Linked DNA regions of Homo sapiens: all the other regions are reported to be linked to region 1. Evidence: microRNA targets listed by miRTarBase, many of them from high-throughput screens and not tested one by one. Region 1 holds a microRNA gene; each other region holds the end of a gene's coding sequence. Distances are from middle to middle.
The links. The annotated mature microRNA hsa-miR-548f-5p reads UGCAAAAGUAAUCACAGUUUUU and lies in region 1 at 2,260-2,281, shown strand. An mRNA with a match to its seed (bases 2 to 7 or 8) in the 3' UTR can be bound and repressed. Matches are read on the target gene's strand: a 7mer-m8 pairs with bases 2 to 8, a 7mer-A1 pairs with bases 2 to 7 and ends in A, and an 8mer does both.

Region 1 (4,074 bases):
GGTGAAATACTATATTTGAAAAAATCGAGATCTGCACCAGTAAACAAAGCCTCTTTACCTTCCAAGAGTATGAGCTCAACAGCTATATTCACATCCCCTAAGAGGAAGAGTTAGTGACAATCAAATTGACAGAATAGGATGAACCTAAAGGTAACAACTAACAATTTTTGATGGCTATTTTACCCATGAAAAACCATCAGTATTGTTAATAAAAGTATCAAGAAATACAAATGAATTTAATGTTTTATTTTACATTAGAGAAACTATTTTAATGACATAAATATATGAACATAATTGAACTGCATATAAAGTGTTAAACCAATATTTAGCTATCTAATGTATTATAAATAGCCCTGCCTTCACATACATTTCCTCTAGGGAAAAAAATAGAATCATTTACTTTCTATAGATATTTAGTGTTCTTCAAAGTATCTTTGTTATTAAATTAATTTGGGAGAGGGAGGTGGTTAAGAAAACATTGCTTTACACCAGTACATATAACTATGTGATTTATAATAAATGCAACCACAGTGGCAGTATATTTTCTGGATGTTAATAGCCTGAAATCCCTTTCAGTAGCAGCATTAATCAGTCAAGGATGGGTTATTTTATGGTCTTTAATGGCCTTTGTTGATAGATGGAGATTTTGTTTACAGATTATTCTTCATTGAAGCACCATAGATTGCAAGCTATGATTCTTAAGAGATATTCTCAAAACATAAATTATGCTGCTAAGAAATCTGTTCAGAGCTAAATTAAATTAGATAGCTGCATTTTTTATGAAGCATAGGTAATGGAGCAGTATACTACAAATGCCTTTTCCTGAGACATTGGTGTGGAATATCTTTAACACAGAATTTTTTCCTAAGAAACATTCCTTTACTTGTGTGCAAGTTTATGAGCCTACATGTTCCTCTCCTGAGTAATTTATGTAGAATACATAACATTTGAAATGTATTTATGATATTTGACTATTATAATGAATATCTGCCTTCAGGTCAGACATTACCAAAAATTTTCATTTTTAAAAAATGAGCAAAAACAGTAGTGCTCATTTATATTTTCCAAATGTCTTCATAATTGAGTATACTGACAATTCAATAGTCAAATTTTAATAATTGTTGCAGTCAACGTTTTGTTTCACATTGAATAATTTTTTATTGTACCTTTCAGGGAAACATTATTCGTGCGCTTGTAGTGCGTGATTATCATTCATGTTGCTTCTAATAATATTTTGCTCACATACATCTTATAGATTGAGTACAGAGTCTAAAAATTTGGGTATGATTATACTACTTCAGAATATATTTTCATTTCCCAAATGTTATTGACTCTTAAAATTTCTAGCTAGGGACTGATTTTTTTTTCTCATTTCTTCTTCTTCTTCTTTTTTTAATGGAGAATAATATAATAGCTGTGGAAAACAAATGACTGTATTTTACTAAACTACACTAAACAAGCCAAGACACCCTTAATTTAATTCAATGTGAAAGTCAGAATTGTAAGAGAGCATAAATCTTGACTTCTTGACGAATATTACCAGACTAAGTCACATCATTTTGTTTGATGACTTTCTCCTTTTTGTATTTTTTATTTTGTTAAGAGAGGGTCTCTGTCACCCAGGCTGGAGTGCAGTGGCATGATCACAGATCACTGCAGCCTAGATATCCTGGGTTCAATCTATCCGCCCACCTCAGCCTCCAGAGTAGCTGAAACTATAGGCGTGTGTCACCACACCCAGATAATTATTATTATTATTATCTGTAGTGATGAGGTTTCACTAAACTGCCCAGGCGGGTCTCAAACTCCCGAGTTGAAGCGTTTCTCCCACATCAGCCTCTCTAAGTGGCTGGACTATAGGTGTACCCCACCATGTCCGCTATTTTTTCTTTTTTTTTTTTGGTAGAGATAAGTTTTTGTCATGTTGCCCATGCTCGTCCTAAACTCCTGGGCTCAAGCAATCCAGCCACCTCGGCCTCCCACAGTGCTGGGATTACAGTTGTGAGCCACCACACCTGGCCTCTCCTTTTATTGAGCGAAGTGTTTGCATACAAATCCCCTGGGATTTTTTTGCTCGGAAATCCCCTCAGGGCTATGCCTAGTCCTCTTTTTGGCTCTATCACTTTTACTGTATTTGTCAAAGAAAAGTATTTCAAGTTAAAATATTATTTTGAAAAATTCCTTATGTGTGCAAGTCTTCTCACAATAACCAAAATGATGTAGGCAAAGCCTTTCCAAAGTGCGGAAGTATTAGGTTGGTGCAAAAGTAATCACAGTTTTTGACATTACTTTCAAAGACAAAAACTGTAATTACTTTTGGACCAACCTAATAGCCTGATTAGCAGTGTCTTGCTCACAGTAGGCCTCATGGCATCATATCTCTTCCTTACCATCATTCTTCATATATCTATAAAAATTCTTTGTAGTAGACAGTAAAAGCCTTAAAGTTACCATTGATTTATTGAGCAATCTAATATTTTTTCTAATAAATATATTAAGATAATATAAATTTTAAAATCTCCATTACCCTCTAGTCTATTATATTTTCTTACTGATTGAATCGTTATGCTAAGGCAATTCTAATCGTAAGGACTATGGGTTGATTTCTACTCTTAACCTGAAACAAGAATAAATTTGTCATGCAGACAAATTTGCATAATGTTCAAAACATAAACATATGCCAGGAATTGAGAGGTCTCTGAGGGCAGGGACCTGGATTTCCTGTATGCCTTTCCTTCTCTTCTCTCTAGTCTACTGCCATTCTTTAATATTTTTCCATATTTAATAATGCCACATGTTATCATATATTGGGTAGTGGGCAGGGATATGGAGAAAATCATATTTTTGCCCCAGAATCCTCTACCAAGAATATTATTAAATTTAGAAGATTTTATATCACATTATTGTTTACCACATTTATTGCACATAAACTCAATTTTAAATCTTATAATTATCTTTTGACTAGTTCAGATATATTTAATTATTGTATTTTCTTTATGTAAAAAGTATTGTTATTAAATGTAAACATATAAAACAACTCATTTTCACAAATAATTTTTAGCATTTTAATTTTTTAAAATTGCAATAAATATTAAGTATAAGTTACTTTGACAACTAAAAGACCTTTATTACTTATGTTAATAAATCTTTCTAGCCACCTGAAATTAGTATATCTTTTCAAAAAATTCACTATATTTTTATGTGTATTTGCAGCCACTCACCATTTAGCCTTTGTTTTATGACTCTAGGGAATTCTTCATTAAAAGCTTTAGAATAGTCAGAATGTGAAACAGAAGACAGATCTATATAAGGCTCTTCCTCTCTCATCCTTCTGTTAGGAATTCTGCCACACTTTTGGTTTCTGATGGGTTTGATGTGACTTGGCCTTAAGTTTGGGCCATCCTTTAAACAATTAATCTGTGTTCTCTGCCACATGCTTCCAAACAAGTGTAGCTTGACTTCTTATCTTTTATGATATCTGAAAACCCTTCAGCCTACAGAGACACATACACTTAGTCTTTTGGTTGCTGATTCCAGTTGAGGACAATACTAATTTTTCTAGCCTGCATCCGAACTGGCATCTTTCCACAATCTTGATCCTGACCCATTGCTTCCATGTCCAAGACAGCACAAAATTCTAAAATTTTTATTTTGTTTTATTTAGTTTCCTTCTCTCTTTCTGATAGCAAGAAGGACACAAACTAGAGAAGCATCTTTGGGCAGTATGTGAAGCCTGCTCAAAGGAGTTGTAATCATTCTCATATATCTCAAAACTGAAGATAATTCTTGTCCTCTATGAAGGGTTTCTAGTAGCTGCTTTGAGAGTTCTTAGTTTCCTTTCTTTGTATTCTCATCCATGGCAGACATTCTTTGGCAGCAATTCTCACCTCTCAGGAAATAGAATCATCACTACTGTGGCCAGCTACTACAGACAAACTAAGGTACATTGAGAAAAAATGCCCAAACAAATGGGTTCTTCCCATATCTCCTCCACTTCACCTCCTCATTCACCAACTAGCTACAACAACAAAGCCCAGTTCCCAGATTCTCTATGAAAGAAGTTAGACTACAAAT
Region 2 (4,074 bases), 27 Mb from region 1:
TTTATTTTAATTTTCTTAGAGACAGGGTCTTGCTCTGTTGCCCAGGCTGGAGTGCAGTGGCACAATCACTGCTTACTGCACCTTCACCCCCCTGGGCTCAAGCAATCCTCCCACCTCAGCCTCCTGAGTAACTGGGAATATAGGTGAACACCCACCATACCCAGCTATTTTTATTTTTATTTTTAGTAGAGATGAGGTCTCACTATGTAGCGCAGGCTGGTCTCGAATTCCTAGGCTCAAGCAATCCCCCGCCTTGGCCTCCCAAAGTGCTGGGATTACAGATATGAGCCACTGTGCCCAGCCAAAGCTCCCTGATTTTATAGTTAGAGAACTGAATCCCTGACATTGTGGGAGGTCATAATCTGCCCCCAGGTTACACTGCAAGTGGGTAGTAGGGCAAGGCCAGAACCTGGCCCCAGGTACAGTCAGCACTCTTTTCCTTATGCTGTTTGTCTCCTGATCCAAAAGGCCCAATTTCTCAGAGTAAATAACTTCAGATTTTTGTGTATCTATGAGAGCTACCTTTTATTCTTTACTACCCACTGTCATCTTACTTCTGCCCCTTTGCAATTTTTTTTGCATCTTAATATAAACTGCTTTATCTTTATTAAAAGCGAACTAATTTTCAACCATATTTCCTGAAGAACTTTTACTTCTGGTCATTAGTGATGAAACTCCTGAGATGAGAAAAGAAAGGAAAAACATAAAAATAATTGAATTTTTGCTTTTCTTTACAGACACTCTGGAAAACGGATCCAATAAGGGTGAAAGGTGAGCAAAATGTTCCCATTGGCCGTTCCTGCTTTTCAGCGATGGCATTTTCAATGCAAACTGCAGTGAGTTTGATCGTTTACTTTCTGTTTTGCTTAACTCCAGCGCAGCTAACAGAAAAGGACCAAGCAAGGATGACACGTATTGGAAGGAGATCAACGCAGCTATGGCCTTAACAAATCTTGCACAGGGAAAGGACAAACTGCAGGGAACTACCAGCTGCATCATCCAGAAGTCGTCCCATATAGCAGAAGTAAAGACTGTCAAAGTGCCGCTGGTGCAGCAGTTTTAAGAGCTTGTTGCTTTTCAGATCCAATGGATGTTCTTTCCGGTGTTTTCATCAACCCTCATCCTAAGAGCCGAAGCAGGGATGAAAATGACTCTCTCCCAAACCTCTTCTTATTTTTAATTATCCCAAATATATCATTTAGTTGCTTCTATAAAAGACATATAAATTATAAAAAACTCATTTTAATCAAAAATATTAACTTATTTTATGTTACTCAAACTATGCATAAAACATCTGCATTACCATTACAGTAAGTGCCTTGCTTCCCGACAATAAGCTCCAACGTGGGCATAGTTGAACAAGCTATGCCTCAAAATGCCAACGCCATATGCTTATTAGCCTGTGTGCATCATTCCAGACGGGCCTAATCATTCCAGGACTGAAACCAGAATCGCTGAAAGCCCTTGAAATACATTCAATAATTCATATGTTAAAACTTGGATATCTGTTCAGCCCAAATGAAATCTTCCTTTTAAAAAACGTCTACATTATTGAAAATTGTTCAATGTGCTTTTCAGAGTGACGGTGAGAATTTTATGCATGTATCTTGCCTGCATATTTGATATGTTACAAACTTCCAAAATTCAAGGTGCAGCGATCCACAGAACGTTGTACATTTAAGAAGTGATTCCTTCAAGCTAATTTAAAATTTCATTGAACACATGGTGACCAGGAAAACTTTTTTTCAAGCACTGTTGGAAAGCACCACAAAGCCCTTTAGAATTAATCTGGATTTGTTTCTCAAGTTCTGCTGAAGTTTAAAAAAAAACTTTATTATACAAATAACTCAAAATTTTCCTGTGTAAAACTAAACCTGTAGTTTTAAAACATAATCCTGTTTGCATTAGAGCTCACTGTCTTTTTGTGATGGAAACTGTGTTCGTATGGAATGACTAAAAATCTTTTATTTGGTTTGTTTCAAATTACAATTGCTGATGGACAATTTGTATTGCAGCGAGAACAACAGAATGAAAGAAATGTATCTCTGTGCGGCTATACATATACATACATAAAATTGATTTTTAAATTTAAAACATATGGAAAACAAAACATTGAACAGTTTGAATTTTGCCAAGTTGGACATTAAAGTAAAAATGAAGTGAAATCATGCATTGAAAGAAAACATTTTGTTTCTAAATTAGTCTACCATTGAGTGAGAATAATCAATATCAAGAAAGAAGACTATCTTTCTCAACTAAACAATAATATTCCAATCAGCTTGGGAAGACCTGAAACTTGAATAAGCAGTGGAAATGCCAAATATAACAGAGGGTATGTGCTACAGAGAAGTAAAAAGGGTTTGACTTTTTATGATGGGATTTTTTTTTTCTGGGTATGTAATCTATTTTTTTTTTAAACTGGAAAGCATTTTTGTCAGTGTGAATGAGGGTCAATAGTGCAGCCAGTGGTGACATTTTTCTTTATTTTGCAAAATGCTTTTAAAACCAAAGGCTGCTCTAGTTGATGGACAGTATCAGTCTTGATCTAAATTGTAGGACACTTTTTCATGTAACATAACATTTGGGGATTGGGTTTATTTAGTGTAATGAAGATAATTTGATATAAAAATATTTTGTGTATATATATATATTTTTACTTTGTTTTCTAAATTGCTGTTTGCAGTAACAGTAAGCGCAAAGCAAAATATATAAGTTATGACTGTATGATCAGATGAAGTATGAGTTCTTTTGGTTTGCATCCTTAAATAGTTAGAGATCTCTGATAAAAACTTTGGAATCTTTGCAAAACAATACAAAAATGCCAAAATGTGAGCATGTCAATGAAAACTAAAGACAAATACTTCACTCTTTTTCATACTATTATAAGTTATTCTGGTATTAAATATGTTAATAAAAGTGTTTTTGTTTTGACATATTTCAGTTAAATGAATGAATGCTGGTTGTATTTTATTTGAATGAGTCATGATTCATGTTTGCCATCTTTTTAAAAAAATCAGCAAATTTCTTCTATGTTATAAATTATAGATGACAAGGCAATATAGGACAACTATTCACATGATTTTTTTTAATACCAAAGGTTGGAAGATTTTATAATTAACATGTCAAGAAGACTTTATAGTAAGCACATCCTTGGTAATATCTCCAATTGCAATGACTTTTTAATTTATTTTTTCTTTTGCTGCTTTAACATTTTCTGGATATTAAAATCCCCCCAGTCCTTTAAAAGAATCTTGAACAATGCTGAGCCGGCAGCTGAAAATCTAACTCATAATTTATGTTGTAGAGAAATAGAATTACCTCTATTCTTTGTTTTGCCATATGTAATCATTTTAATAAAATTAATAACTGCCAGGAGTTCTTGACAGATTTAAAATAAAAGTTAATTTCTAGACCTCGATGATCGTATGGATTTTGTTTTCCTTTGAGAGCTGACCAGGTAGATGAAGCAGTAGAACAGACGGGCCCATTATATTCAGCAATTCTCCTTAGACTGTTAAGGGATATGATATGGGAGTGCTGCATTTGTATTAGGTTTGAATTTCATCACCTTAGGCCACCAATCCAGCTTTCAAAGACTGAGGAAAAGGGAGTGTGATGCCGACTATTAAAATACCTAACTTTAAAATGAACATTTTCAGGTAATACCTTCTTTCCCTCACTAATACAATTAGCATTATTTGTGGTGTGCTCTGCACTGGAGAGAAAACCTTGGCTTTGAAGCTAGACAGAACTACCTTTGAATCTCAGCTCTGTCCCTTACTACTTAGTCATTCTTATCTAGTTTCTTCATCTGCAAAGTGGGAGTAAGGAGCTATACCTTGTAGGGTTTGCACTAAGATTGAGATAAAATGCAATACATAAAGTGCCTACCTCAGTGTCTGTCAGATAATAGGTGCTTGGTAACTGGAACATATTATTGCATAGTTACAATTCCTCTATTCAGGCTTTATGCACAAGAAAGTAGAAATATTTAAAATAAATGGAACATAAGACATGGGTAGTTTAATGGACAGCTGTAGAGAGGGAGAGATGCCTGACAAGAAAAGCTGCTGT
Region 3 (3,000 bases), not on the chromosome of region 1:
AGCCCACATGCATGTGTTCACTTCTCCAGTGTGATAGGCATAAGATACCAGAAAAGGATCATGTAGCTGTGAAAACACCAAAACAGGGAGAACTGATGGTAAATGACTATGTGTGAATGGACCAGGAAGCCCAAAAAATCCTAATACAGAAAACAGAGTGGGGAACAGAGTGCACCTAGAGAAAGAAAGATAAACACACCCCAAAGGAACAACAAGCAAATAAAATATCAAAGACATCTCCACATTTTCTTGTACCACCAAGAGGCTCCCCCAAAATAACAAGTCCATTTGTCATGTTTCCTGTCTCGTTCACTTAACTATCAGGAGATAAGGTTTAAATCTCTTTTTGTTTGCTGGGCCCCCCTCCATCCTCCATCCTGCAAATAGAATTCTACTCCAGAAAAGCAAATAAATTGAATTTTATAAAATTACAGTGTGGATAGAAGTGAGACAATGGATTGTTCCACAAACCCAAAATCAGAACTAAGGTGTCTCCTGAAGCCTGGAAGAAGTAGCTAATTAAATAAATGAAGAGGCTGGGCGTGGTGGTTCACGCCTATAATCCCAGCACTTTGGGAGGCTGAGGCATGAGGATTGCTTCAGCCCAGGAATTCAAAACCAGCCTGGGCAACATAGTGAGACTCTCTCTCTGCAAAAAAAAAAAAAAAAATTAGTCAGGCATGGTGGTACAGACCTGTAGTCCCAGCTACCAGGGAGGCTGAGGTGGAAAGATCACTTTAGCCCATGGGGTCGAGGCTGCAGTAAGCAGTGATCACTCCACTGCACCCAGCCTGGGAGACACAGCAAGACCCTGTCTCAAAAATGAAATAAACAGAGATAGTATTAGTATTTTACAGGTCAGTAAACATGCTGTTCTCATTGCCTCCCATGCCCCTCACCGGATAAAAGAGATGACAAAAGACGACATAAATGTATATTTATATATATTCATGTATATAAGTGAGGTATGCATTAACAGTGCTAGCTGGTATGGTGATGTGGAGTTGAAGGCAATCAAGGTGTCAGCTCTAGAGAAAGCAGTAAGGAAGGTGTGGTAGACGCACACTATAGAATACCAGGCAGCAGTCAGAAGTAATGAACTAGACACTGCTAGATGTGGAGTGAAAAAATGTTGAATGAAAAACGAAACTGAGAAGAACTATAACACAGTATCATGTACATTTGGTTAAGCATAAATTAAAAACATACCACATGCAAAGCACTACACCATTTTCTCAGGCTATAGATTTAAAGGTGTGTCAAACACAACAGATTGGGTCCTTCTGTGGGGAGAATGGTAGAAAACAGGATTGAAGGAGCAAAATTAAAACCAAGGAGTCCTCATTGTTGGATAATAGGGAACCTGGGCACCAATGGGATGTAATTAATTCAACTCTGCATCCAAAGTTTAAAGAAAAAGACCTATGTCTAGCAAATGAGGTCTGGTTAATACACCGTGAGGGCAACCACATTCTCCTGGCATGCTTGAACCCACCACTCAGTATACTGCACTGACTAAAACTCACCATGCCTTACTCAGTGTGGTATATTTGCTCTGTAAAAGAGAACTTTAAGCACTAACTCTGCCAGGGACTCAATGAGTGTTGGGTCCTTTAGCAGATTTATTTAACCCCAACAGCCTGTGAGATAATAAACACCTCCATTTTACAGATTTAAAAAGCCAAGTCACTTTTCCAAGGTCACAAAGATAACTCAATGGATTTGAACTTCATGTTTAGCTTCATTTTCACTATATCAGTGCCTTCCTCTAAGCCACCTAACCTGAGAATTTCTCCCAAGATTTGACCCTGAGGTAGTCTTTCTAAAATGATACCTAAGCATTTTACCTTTACTTTCCTCCTAGACTAACTGCACCACTGGAAACTGCATCAGACTACACAGTAGTCACTCTGTGCAGTCATGTTTAGAAATATAAAACCTTTACAGCAAGCTATTGATGTGCTTTTTAACTTAGCCTGGATTTAATGCAAGCGCCCAGAGATATTCAGTACCTCCTGTACCATGATACATTCCATGAGTGACATTCAACTTTGCCCCTACATAAGCCTTCAAGCCCCCTTACATAGGTCCCAGTGCCATGACATGGTGAGTTACTCTCAAAGTTAAACTAAGTTTGGGGCACACAAGTCATTCCTGATTCCTCACATTACTCTGACAATCATAAATCATTTAAAGCTGAGGCGATGAAGCAACTGTCAGGCAGCAGTGCAAGTCCCAGGGTCCAGTAGACACAGGACTTACCTTGTGAAAACATAACCTTTCAACACTATTCAAAAACGACATCTGAAAACTCATATGGTTCTAACTTTTATTATTAGGTCAGAACGAATGAAGTAGCAGCAAAAGGGTCTCTCCTATGATCTGTCTTTCACTGGTCCTCAGGGCAAGGAGGAAACTTGGGCAGGAGATGATTGCTCAATCCCAGCAGACTCTCAGAATCTCACTTGGACCCGAAAGTGCATCTGCTTGGTGGCATTGTTCTTCATTCCTGTCTTCAGCATCCATTTTGATTTCATCCTTTGGACATACTGCATGTCTCGCTCTCGCATAAGAGCCGCTCCTATGATTGGAAGGCAGTTAAGAAATTAGGCAAAGTTCTGTTATTTGTGATCAGAGAAAATCCAACCTTGGCAGAGAATTCAAAAGGTTAGTTTGGGGTAACTAGGTTCTTGTATTTAAAACAGAGTTGCTAACTTGGGGTCTCTAAGCCATGCGCCTCAGGGGTCTCTGTGGACTCCAGAATTGCATACCAGAACTTTTGTATATATACACTTATCTGGGATTAGTAGCTTTAGTTTTCATCATCTGGAAGAGTTTATAAGCCCAAAAGGTAAAGCCCCATTAATCAGAAAGGCAGAAGCTATATATCGAGTCAGACAATACTTCCTGATAAGAGTAAGATGAAGTCAAGTCTCTGCCAGATTCAAGTGGCCACACAGCTCACAAGCAGCCACAGTGAAGGAAACCACATATAAACAC
Region 4 (4,074 bases), not on the chromosome of region 1:
TGCATATTTTTTAATATGTACTCCCACAGCCTCGAGTATCACACAGACATACACACATGTGAAGAAGGCATAGTTGGTTTTCTCATTGCGTCTATACCAAATAGATATAGAGGGAAATTGGATTAAATAAGATATTTTTAGGTGAAGATCAGTAGGAGAACACAAGCTTTAGCAGGTGGTTGTTCAGCCCTGGGATTTTCACAGTAAGGGCTAACAGCAAGGATGGTACTGTCAGCCAGCAGCATTTCCAGCAGCTGGGGAATTAGCCTTCAGGCCTGAAGGGTTTGGGTGCCATATCCCAAGGCCCCCTACAGTAGATTATTTTATTGGATTGTCTCAGTAACTCAGAGGTGGACAGAGAAGGCGGTTATGCCAGGTTCAAGATGAACAACTGAGGTTGAGTGACAAGTTCATAGGAGAGGCATAGAAAGGGGAAGGAGTCCCGTATTCTTTCTGCTGTGGTAAGCCTGCCAAAATGCATACTGAGTCTTTTCTGCCAGAATAACAGTAGGTAACCGCTTCCTCACCTCACTATGTAATCAAGTTAGGAAGGAAATACACCCTTCCTAACTCAGAAATCTGAAGAAGGGAAAGGGAAAGGATGTTTAAGTGAATTTAAGCTGTCATGAATGACATGTTTTTCTATGTGTAGTTGTGTTTATTTTGCTCCAAATGAAACTTTCCATGTTTGTAATAATACTTTTGTTGACAAATTATTATACTACTTACTTTATAAGAATCTGATTGCCCTATTCATTAAAGCCTCTATATTATATTTTTTGTGTGTTTGTTTTTCACTTAGATAATCAAACTAAATAGACGTCTACAACTTCTGGAAGAGGAGAACAAAGAACGTGCTAAAAGAGAAATGGTCATGTATTCAATTACTGTAGCTTTCTGGCTGCTTAATAGCTGGCTCTGGTTTCGCCGCTAGAGGTAACATCAGCCCTCAAAAATACTGTCTCAACAGCTGGAAATATAAAAGATTTGCAAACTTCTTTGTTTCTGTCTCTGCATTGTATGCCATTTTATAGTCCACACCCTGAAAATGTATTTCTTCCAGAAAGTCTGGAGGAAGGACCTATATTTGTAGAAGTAAAGGTATATTCTGTCACTCAGCTGTATTCACGTCTGAGCAGTTCTGCAGTAACACCTGCTTAAAATTCTCCCTTTGCATGTTTTGTAAATAGGCTCCAGTTTTGTTTTTTAAAAGGAATTTATTTTTTGCCTCATCAGTCCACCCAACTGATTCTGAATGGGAGAGAGTCTGTAGAGAATTGATTCAGAAAAGTGTCTGTGAAAGAAAAACAATTATTTTGTCCTGTTTCTCAAACAGTGTTAAGCAGTTTTGTTAATAGACATTTTTGCATCGACACTTCAACATTAACACTTTCAAAGTCATGGTCTGGTGCCAGATTTAAGAAACTCGAACCACCTAATATTTCATAACCTTCTTCATTAGGTACTTGTACAGATTAATTTCTAACATTGCAGCAGTTTCATATGTGTGCAATATGTGCATTCTTTCATTTTAGTTTTGCACTTGGTTTTCTATAAAGTACGTTTTTACTCAGTTCATGCGTGAACAATTTAAAAAACGACAGAATAAGGTACAAATGTAGTGTATTTAATAAACTGTCAACCAAAGAAGTATTTGTCTGTTGAAGGATTTTATTTCATCATTTGTGCAATCAGCTACATTTTGTATCATATTACCTTATGAGTCTTCCCGTCTCAGAGCAAGTAATACAATTAATGACCTGGTAGGTAGCAAGAACCTGCTGTGCTTCCTTTCAGACCTTCATCCTGGTGGTGGTGGCTGTTGGTTGCATTGTAGGTGGTTTTCTAATTTATAATATCTATAAAGTGGTTCAGGTTTAAATACCTTGAGTTGTGTATACTTTTTTTTTTTTGAGATGGAGTCTCGCTCTGTTGCTGATGCTGGAGTCCCGTGGCATGATCTCAGCTCACTGCAACCTCCACCTCCCAGGTTCAAGTGATCCTTCTGCCTCAGCCTCCAGAGTAGCTGGGATTACAGGCGCTGGCCACCACACCCAACTAATTTTTGTATTTTTAGTAGATACAGGGTTTCGCCATGTTGGCCAGGCTGGTCTCGAACTCCTGACCTCAGGTGGTCTGCCTGCCTCAGCCTCCCAAAGTGCTGGGATTACAGCCACTGCGCCCAGCCAGAGTTGTATATACTTTTTTCATGGCAGTATTTATTTGCTAATTATATATAGGTGAATTTAAATCTCAAGGCTGGGTGTGGTGGCTCACGCCCGTAATCCTAATACTTTGGGAGGCCTAGGCGGGTGGATCACTTGAAGTCAGGAGTTCGAGACCAGCCTGGCCAATACAGTGAAACCCCATCTCTACCAAAAATACAAAAATTAGCCAGGTGTGGTGGCAGGCATGGTGGCAATAGCTGTAATCCCAGCTACTCAGGAGGCTGAGGCAGAAGAATCACTTGAACCCAGAAGGCAGAGGTTGCAGTAAGCTGAGATCATGCCACTGTACTCCAGCCTGAGTGACAGAGCCAAACTCCGTCTCAAAAAAAAACTAAAAATTTAAAAGTAAATCTCAAAAGAATTAAACCAAGTGAAGCCAAGTGCTAGACAGTTTTAGCTCTCAAAACTTATATTTCCCCATTTTCGGTTCAGAAATGGGTAGAATTCAGTTAGGTGCAACATTCTCCACACATCTTTGGTATCTTTCTTCCAAGGCAGGGAGTTTGGGGAAAGGCAGTTGAGGAAATTCCTTGGATAGAGTTAGATTTAGCATTTCCGTTCTTGCTTCTTATCCCTCTAAAATAATATCAAGACAAAGATTCTTCTCTGTACTTAGAAGTTTTCTGACTTTTGGTAATGATGCAACTATATTAATTCTAGATTTATGTATACCAGAAGGTAATTTCTGTGGTTATCCTCCAAATTGAAATCACAAAAATGAAGAAAAATGATGGATAAGGTTAGTATCTTTTGATAAACAGACATGAAAAGGATTCCACAAAGGTCAAAAAATGAAATAAAAGCAGGAATACTGAGAGAGAAGTGCGGAAGCCCTTTTTTTCCCTCATGATTCTTACCAAAGAATGGACACTTGGAGCTTTCTCCCTTAATGATTGTGCAAGGGGTAGAAGATCGACTTCCCTACCTCAGGCAGGCACCAGCTGTAACAGGAGACTCGTGAATGAAGCTAAGACCCCAACAGACGGTGAATGAAAACTCTGTTTACAGTGCAAAAGGGGACAACCAAGAAACCTGCCTTACCTGACCTTGTCACATATCTAGAAGTAGAAAAGCTTGAATCTCTCTAACTCCAAAGTTAGGATCTCTATTAAACACCTGTGTACTTCCCCTAAAAATTGTTAATTACTGTTGAAATATATTTTGGAGTTGAGAAGAACAAATTAGTTCCTGGTTAGTATAACCAGATATTTGAGCTGAGCCTTTCAACAAGCAGAGAAAGAACAAGAAAATATTCCAGGTGCAGATGATAGAGGGAGAAATGGATACAGTCAGGAGCCAAAGTCGTATCATACAACTAAGTATAGCAAATATATTGTTGCACTACTGAAAGTGCACCCTTCTCCCCACTTCTAGTAATTATGGTTGAAGTATGTGCAGGTTGTTTACACTTTGAAGGATAACATCATGGAAGTAGTATATTTTCAAGAGAGCTTTCCTTTTTCCTTCCTTCCTGCATGAATGTGTGTTTCCAGCTCCTTAACTATAGTGATTGCCCAGCCCTTATCCAAAATTCTTTGGACCAGAAGTATTTTGAATTTCAGAGTTTTTCAGATTTTCAAGTATTTACATATACATAATGAGATATCTTGAGGATGGGACCCAAGTCTAAACATGAAATTCATTTATATTTCATACATACCCTCTACACATAACCTAAAGATAATTTTATACAATATTTCAAATTTTGTGTATGAAACAAAGTTTGTGTATGCTGAACCATCAGAAAGCAAAAAGCAAAGATGTCATAGTGATATCTCAGCCACGCATGTGGACAGTCGGGTTTTTTGCCATCACTATCATTCCTGACTCTGAGTGTATATGCTGC
Region 5 (4,074 bases), not on the chromosome of region 1:
AGAGTTATACCCTGAAGAATTTGAAACAGACAGGTAAGGAAAATAGGCTTACTGAAAGAAACTAAGATGGTACAAAATCTGTATTATAAATTGATTTCTTAACTTTTACGAAGAATATACTTGCCATCAAAAATGTAGCTAGAGAAACAATAGGTGATTTAGTTAGGAGGTGATCCCTGTTTTCCCATTCTCTGGTTGATGTTTGGCATGTCTGTAAGCATTTTGGTTTTTATATATAGTATTCCATACAGTAACTCAGTATGGCAGCTTAGAATTTTTACCTTCATTTTAAAGATGAGGAAACAAAAACTCAATGAGAATATTAAAGTGTTAAAGTATACATTAAAGTGCTTATTTAAAATTCAGATGTTAACCTCAATTTTTTAATCTAGAATGCAAAATATTAAAATAATACGCTTTTTTTTTACATAAAAGCTTCTATTTTTTAACTTTTCTTATTAGTAGTGATCAGCAAGATATTACCAACGGGAAGAAAACATCTCCCCAGGTAAAGTCATCTACCCATGAATCCCGCAAACACAAGAAGTCAAAGAAATCCCACAAAAAAAAGCAGAAAAAAAGGTCACACAAAAAACAGAAGAAAAGCAAAAAGGAAGCCACAGATATAACAGCAGATTCCTCGAGTGAGTTCTCAGAAGAAACTGGGGCTTCTGGTACAAGGAAAGGGAAACAACCACATAAACGCAAGAAAAAATCCAGGAAAAAGTCTCTCAAAAAACCTGCTTTATTCTTAGAGGCAGAAAGTAACACTTCACATTCAGATGATTCAGCATCCAGCAGTTCTGAGGAAAGTGAGGAAAGAGACACTAAGAAAACCAAAAGGAAAAAGAGAGAGAAAAAAGCCCATACCTCTGTAGCCAACAATGAAATACAGGAGAGGACAAACAAACGCACAAATTGGAAAGTAGCTACAGATGAAAGGTCTGCTGAGAGCTCAGAGGATGACTAAATGGGAAACACTTTTGTTTTCCACATGACTGTGGATATTTACAGTTCTTACTCCTTGTGGTTTTGCCAGTGACTCTTGTTCAGCACGGGGCCTGAGGTCAGAGCTGTCTTGTGCCATCTGTATGTTCTGACAGACGTCTTGTCTTCTATTTTGGCGTTAAGCTTGATCCCCTTTTCTTGTTAAAAGGGAATCTGGTATTTTGTTATGAAGGTTTCTTGAAGAGATTATTTTTTTTTGCAATTAATTACGTTTAGTGTAGAGTGCATATACAGCAAATTAAAGGACCCAGAAAGCTGGATCCAATAGTGACCTGGGTACACCAATCGGAATATTGAATTTGGGGAAGTCAAGGGCTGGGATCAAGAGGTGGATTGGAACTAATGCCATGTAGGATGGTATGACAAGGCAACACTGTATTGCTCTCTGTTTATATAGCAGGTGTCACAACTAACTTGTCTTTAGCCTTGGTGCTTTGATCCTTCTATATTTTGACCCCACAGGTGTGGTCCGGTTTACTTAATCAGGACATGGGCCTAAGAACAAACCTTTTCCCTTCATGATAACATCCATAGACAACTTATTAGAAGGGACTAGAGTTTTTGCAAATTTCCCTGCTGGATGGGGCCTATAGCTATACTTAGTATATGCCTAAACATGGTAATTGGATAGTAAATGGTTTTCTAGTTCCATTGCTGTATATTTGCCTAAATGGACTTGTGTTCAAATTATTTCTTCAATTGTCATAGATAATCCTGTACCAAATGGGGAAGAATTAGGAAATAATCATGTTGTCTAATGGTACTCTGGATTCAGGGCAGCAACTGCCATTTAAATGTTGTCTTGTTCATTTCTAAATCTGTTCATGAAGTTTAGGTTTTCCCTGAAACTAAGTTGAATTATTTCCAAAATGAAACAGGCTTCTCAGGGACATATCCACTTCTTCCCAGTCTGCCTTTGGATTAAAGCACCAAGCAGAGACCACATTAATTCCCTTTGCTATACTGTGATCCTTAGTATGTTAATTCTTAAGAAACCAACATATCACTGAAAGAAGGCTGGCAGAACGCAAGTGCATTTTTTCACTGTGGGAAGAAAGATCAAGTGACGTATTATTTTTTCCTGGTTGTCACTTAATGGGCTGAGTAAAAAGCTTGAAAACTCAGACTTTCGGTCTTGGTTCTGCCACTCATTGGTTATGAGGAGGCCCAGAGCAGGTAAGTTCACCTTCCTGGCCTTACTTTCCTGATGTGTAATACGGAATTACTTCACAGTAGCATGACAGTATAAGACACCAGCAGTAGATACAACTATGATGACATTCCATGAGTTGGTATTTTTAGTTCTAACTGCTAAATTTGTTCTCTTTACGGGACAGATTTCTAATAAAGTGCTTGGTCTTAAAATACATGGTTGGACAGAGGTGCCCTATCCCTTAACTATGAGCAGGTGCTACCTTTTGGGATATTTATTTTAAATTTTAATACTTTGGTACTCAATTGTCAGTGTTCCATGGTGTGTATTTTTATTTTTGGGATTAGTGGGGGTCTAAAGGGAGAAGAATAGTCTCTAATTACTACCTCTTAACCTAAAGCAATTATTTTGTTCCTGGAGCAAGTTAAATCTTTGTTGGAAGGAGCTTTGGCCATATATTTTTTAGCATGCATTGTTTCTGTGCCCTGAAAGTACCTGAAAGGTTTTAAGCACAGACTCAGGAAAATGTGCCAGTAGAACAGGCCATCTCCAGGAAATTGGCTCTATTTGGGTCCTGACCTTCCCTTCCTCCCAAGTTAGCAGGCTTGTTCTTTCGCAAGGAATACACATCTTGCCTTTTTTTTTTTTTTTTTGCCATGTTTTCCTTTTCTTGGTCATGTATAAGCAATAAAGCTGTTTTTTGTTCTTCATCTTTCTTAACCCCAAATTTTCTTCTATGCCTTAGGCTTCGATGGTTCTTCCAACCCCCTTAATATGGCTTAGGGTGGTTTTTCAAAACCTACAATCCCCCATTTGCACTACTGGCCATGGAACATTTATTTCTAGTGTTCCTGCCAATCAGAGATCTCTATATTAAATTCTAAAATGGGATTAAAAGAAGAGTTGGAGAATTCACACTTATTGAGTAACTGATGTCATACAACCTGGAATTTCTGAATTCCAAATAAATAAATTTCACTCTTTGAACATTTCATCTTTTACTTTTTAGCACCAACAGACTTGATAACAGCCTGATGCTGATCTGACAATGGGTTGATAGCCTTCCCCCACTGACCCTTAAATCTGCTTAGTAACAAGTCCTTTGCTTCTGTCATTCTCCTGGGGGATGGCCTACTGCCCTCCTTTCTGTACAATCTGGGCAAACCGACTGGTGATGGCAAGAGTGGTGTCAATGAAGCGGTCTACACAGCTGGAGAGACAATTTTCAGTGCGAGAGTCTAGGCGATTCCCTGGCTTCTCCACACATTTATCCCAACATAACTCCATGAAGTGATGCACCTAAAAGGAAAGAAAAATAGTAACCATTGGGGTCTGCAGATAGGCCTAACTCTTGTTTATTAACTTCTCACTTTTTGACACCTGACAAAACCATTCTTTAAATCAACCACGGAGTCACTTTGGGCTCTTCTCTTTCTTCATTTCCTAATTAGTCACCAATATTGATCCAGATCCTCGTCCCTACAGATTGTACATTCTCAGGTAGGACTAATAACCTTTTATATTCCCCAAAGTAGCTAGCACCATTGTGAACCAACTAGGGAACCAATTAATTTTCCCAAACTATTGCACTCATTTTATTCCAAACCTATCCCCTAGACAAGGTAATTCTTCCATTAACCTTTTGGGGGTTATGGATCCACTCCCCAGAAAAATGCACATACAGGCACAGAAATTATGTGCACTGTCATTAGAATGTTCAGGGCCCAAAGATTTCTAGCCAGGGTTCTTGCTGGTCATCCGAGCACCCTCTTCCTCCCACCCAAAAGGAAAAAACCATTTTACCAAGAGCTTACTATTTGTGAGGCTGGGTACTAAGAAATCAGTTCTCTCTAAGGTCCTCAAGGATAGCTGTCATCACCTCCCATTTAAGAGGCGTGATTATGTAGTCCAAG

Region 2: miRTarBase lists MKX as a target of hsa-miR-548f-5p. Seed matches in the 3' UTR shown: 7mer-A1 at 2,485-2,491 and 7mer-m8 at 3,194-3,200.
Region 3: the mRNA of ZNF622 is a reported target of hsa-miR-548f-5p. Seed matches in the 3' UTR shown: 7mer-m8 at 2,361-2,367.
Region 4: miRTarBase lists MFF as a target of hsa-miR-548f-5p. Seed matches in the 3' UTR shown: 7mer-A1 at 1,363-1,369 and 7mer-A1 at 1,536-1,542.
Region 5: miRTarBase lists NKAPD1 as a target of hsa-miR-548f-5p. Seed matches in the 3' UTR shown: 7mer-A1 at 1,203-1,209 and 7mer-A1 at 1,568-1,574.

What each region holds. Positions count from the first base shown.
Region 1 is chr10:54,606,133-54,610,206 of GRCh38, reverse strand. MIR548F1 (microRNA 548f-1) reads left to right here and starts at 2,250; the gene lies at 2,250-2,333. All of the region lies in intron 2 of PCDH15 (protocadherin related 15), which reads left to right. It overlaps LOC105378311 (a long non-coding RNA gene), which reads right to left. Exons shown (of 6, transcript NR_134503.1): 3 at 3,222-4,074.
Region 2 is chr10:27,672,218-27,676,291 of GRCh38, reverse strand. It overlaps MKX (mohawk homeobox), which reads left to right. Exons shown (of 7, transcript NM_173576.3): 6 at 738-771; 7 at 877-3,418. The coding sequence ends at 1,063. Among named protein-coding and RNA genes, the nearest start is that of MKX-AS1, 70 kb to the left of the region's middle.
Region 3 is chr5:16,449,204-16,452,203 of GRCh38, forward strand. ZNF622 (zinc finger protein 622) reads right to left here. Exons shown (of 6, transcript NM_033414.3): 6 at 2,316-2,581. The coding sequence ends at 2,454. Among named protein-coding and RNA genes, the nearest start is that of LINC02150, 9.6 kb to the left of the region's middle.
Region 4 is chr2:227,356,184-227,360,257 of GRCh38, forward strand. MFF (mitochondrial fission factor) reads left to right here. Exons shown (of 9, transcript NM_001277062.2): 9 at 803-1,650. The coding sequence ends at 934. Among named protein-coding and RNA genes, the nearest start is that of TM4SF20, 21 kb to the right of the region's middle.
Region 5 is chr11:112,082,003-112,086,076 of GRCh38, forward strand. It overlaps NKAPD1 (NKAP domain containing 1), which reads left to right. Exons shown (of 6, transcript NM_018195.4): 5 at 1-33; 6 at 463-3,148. The coding sequence ends at 970. It overlaps TIMM8B (translocase of inner mitochondrial membrane 8 homolog B), which reads right to left. Exons shown (of 2, transcript NM_012459.4): 2 at 2,798-3,460. The coding sequence ends at 3,293. Among named protein-coding and RNA genes, the nearest start is that of TIMM8B, 2.7 kb to the right of the region's middle.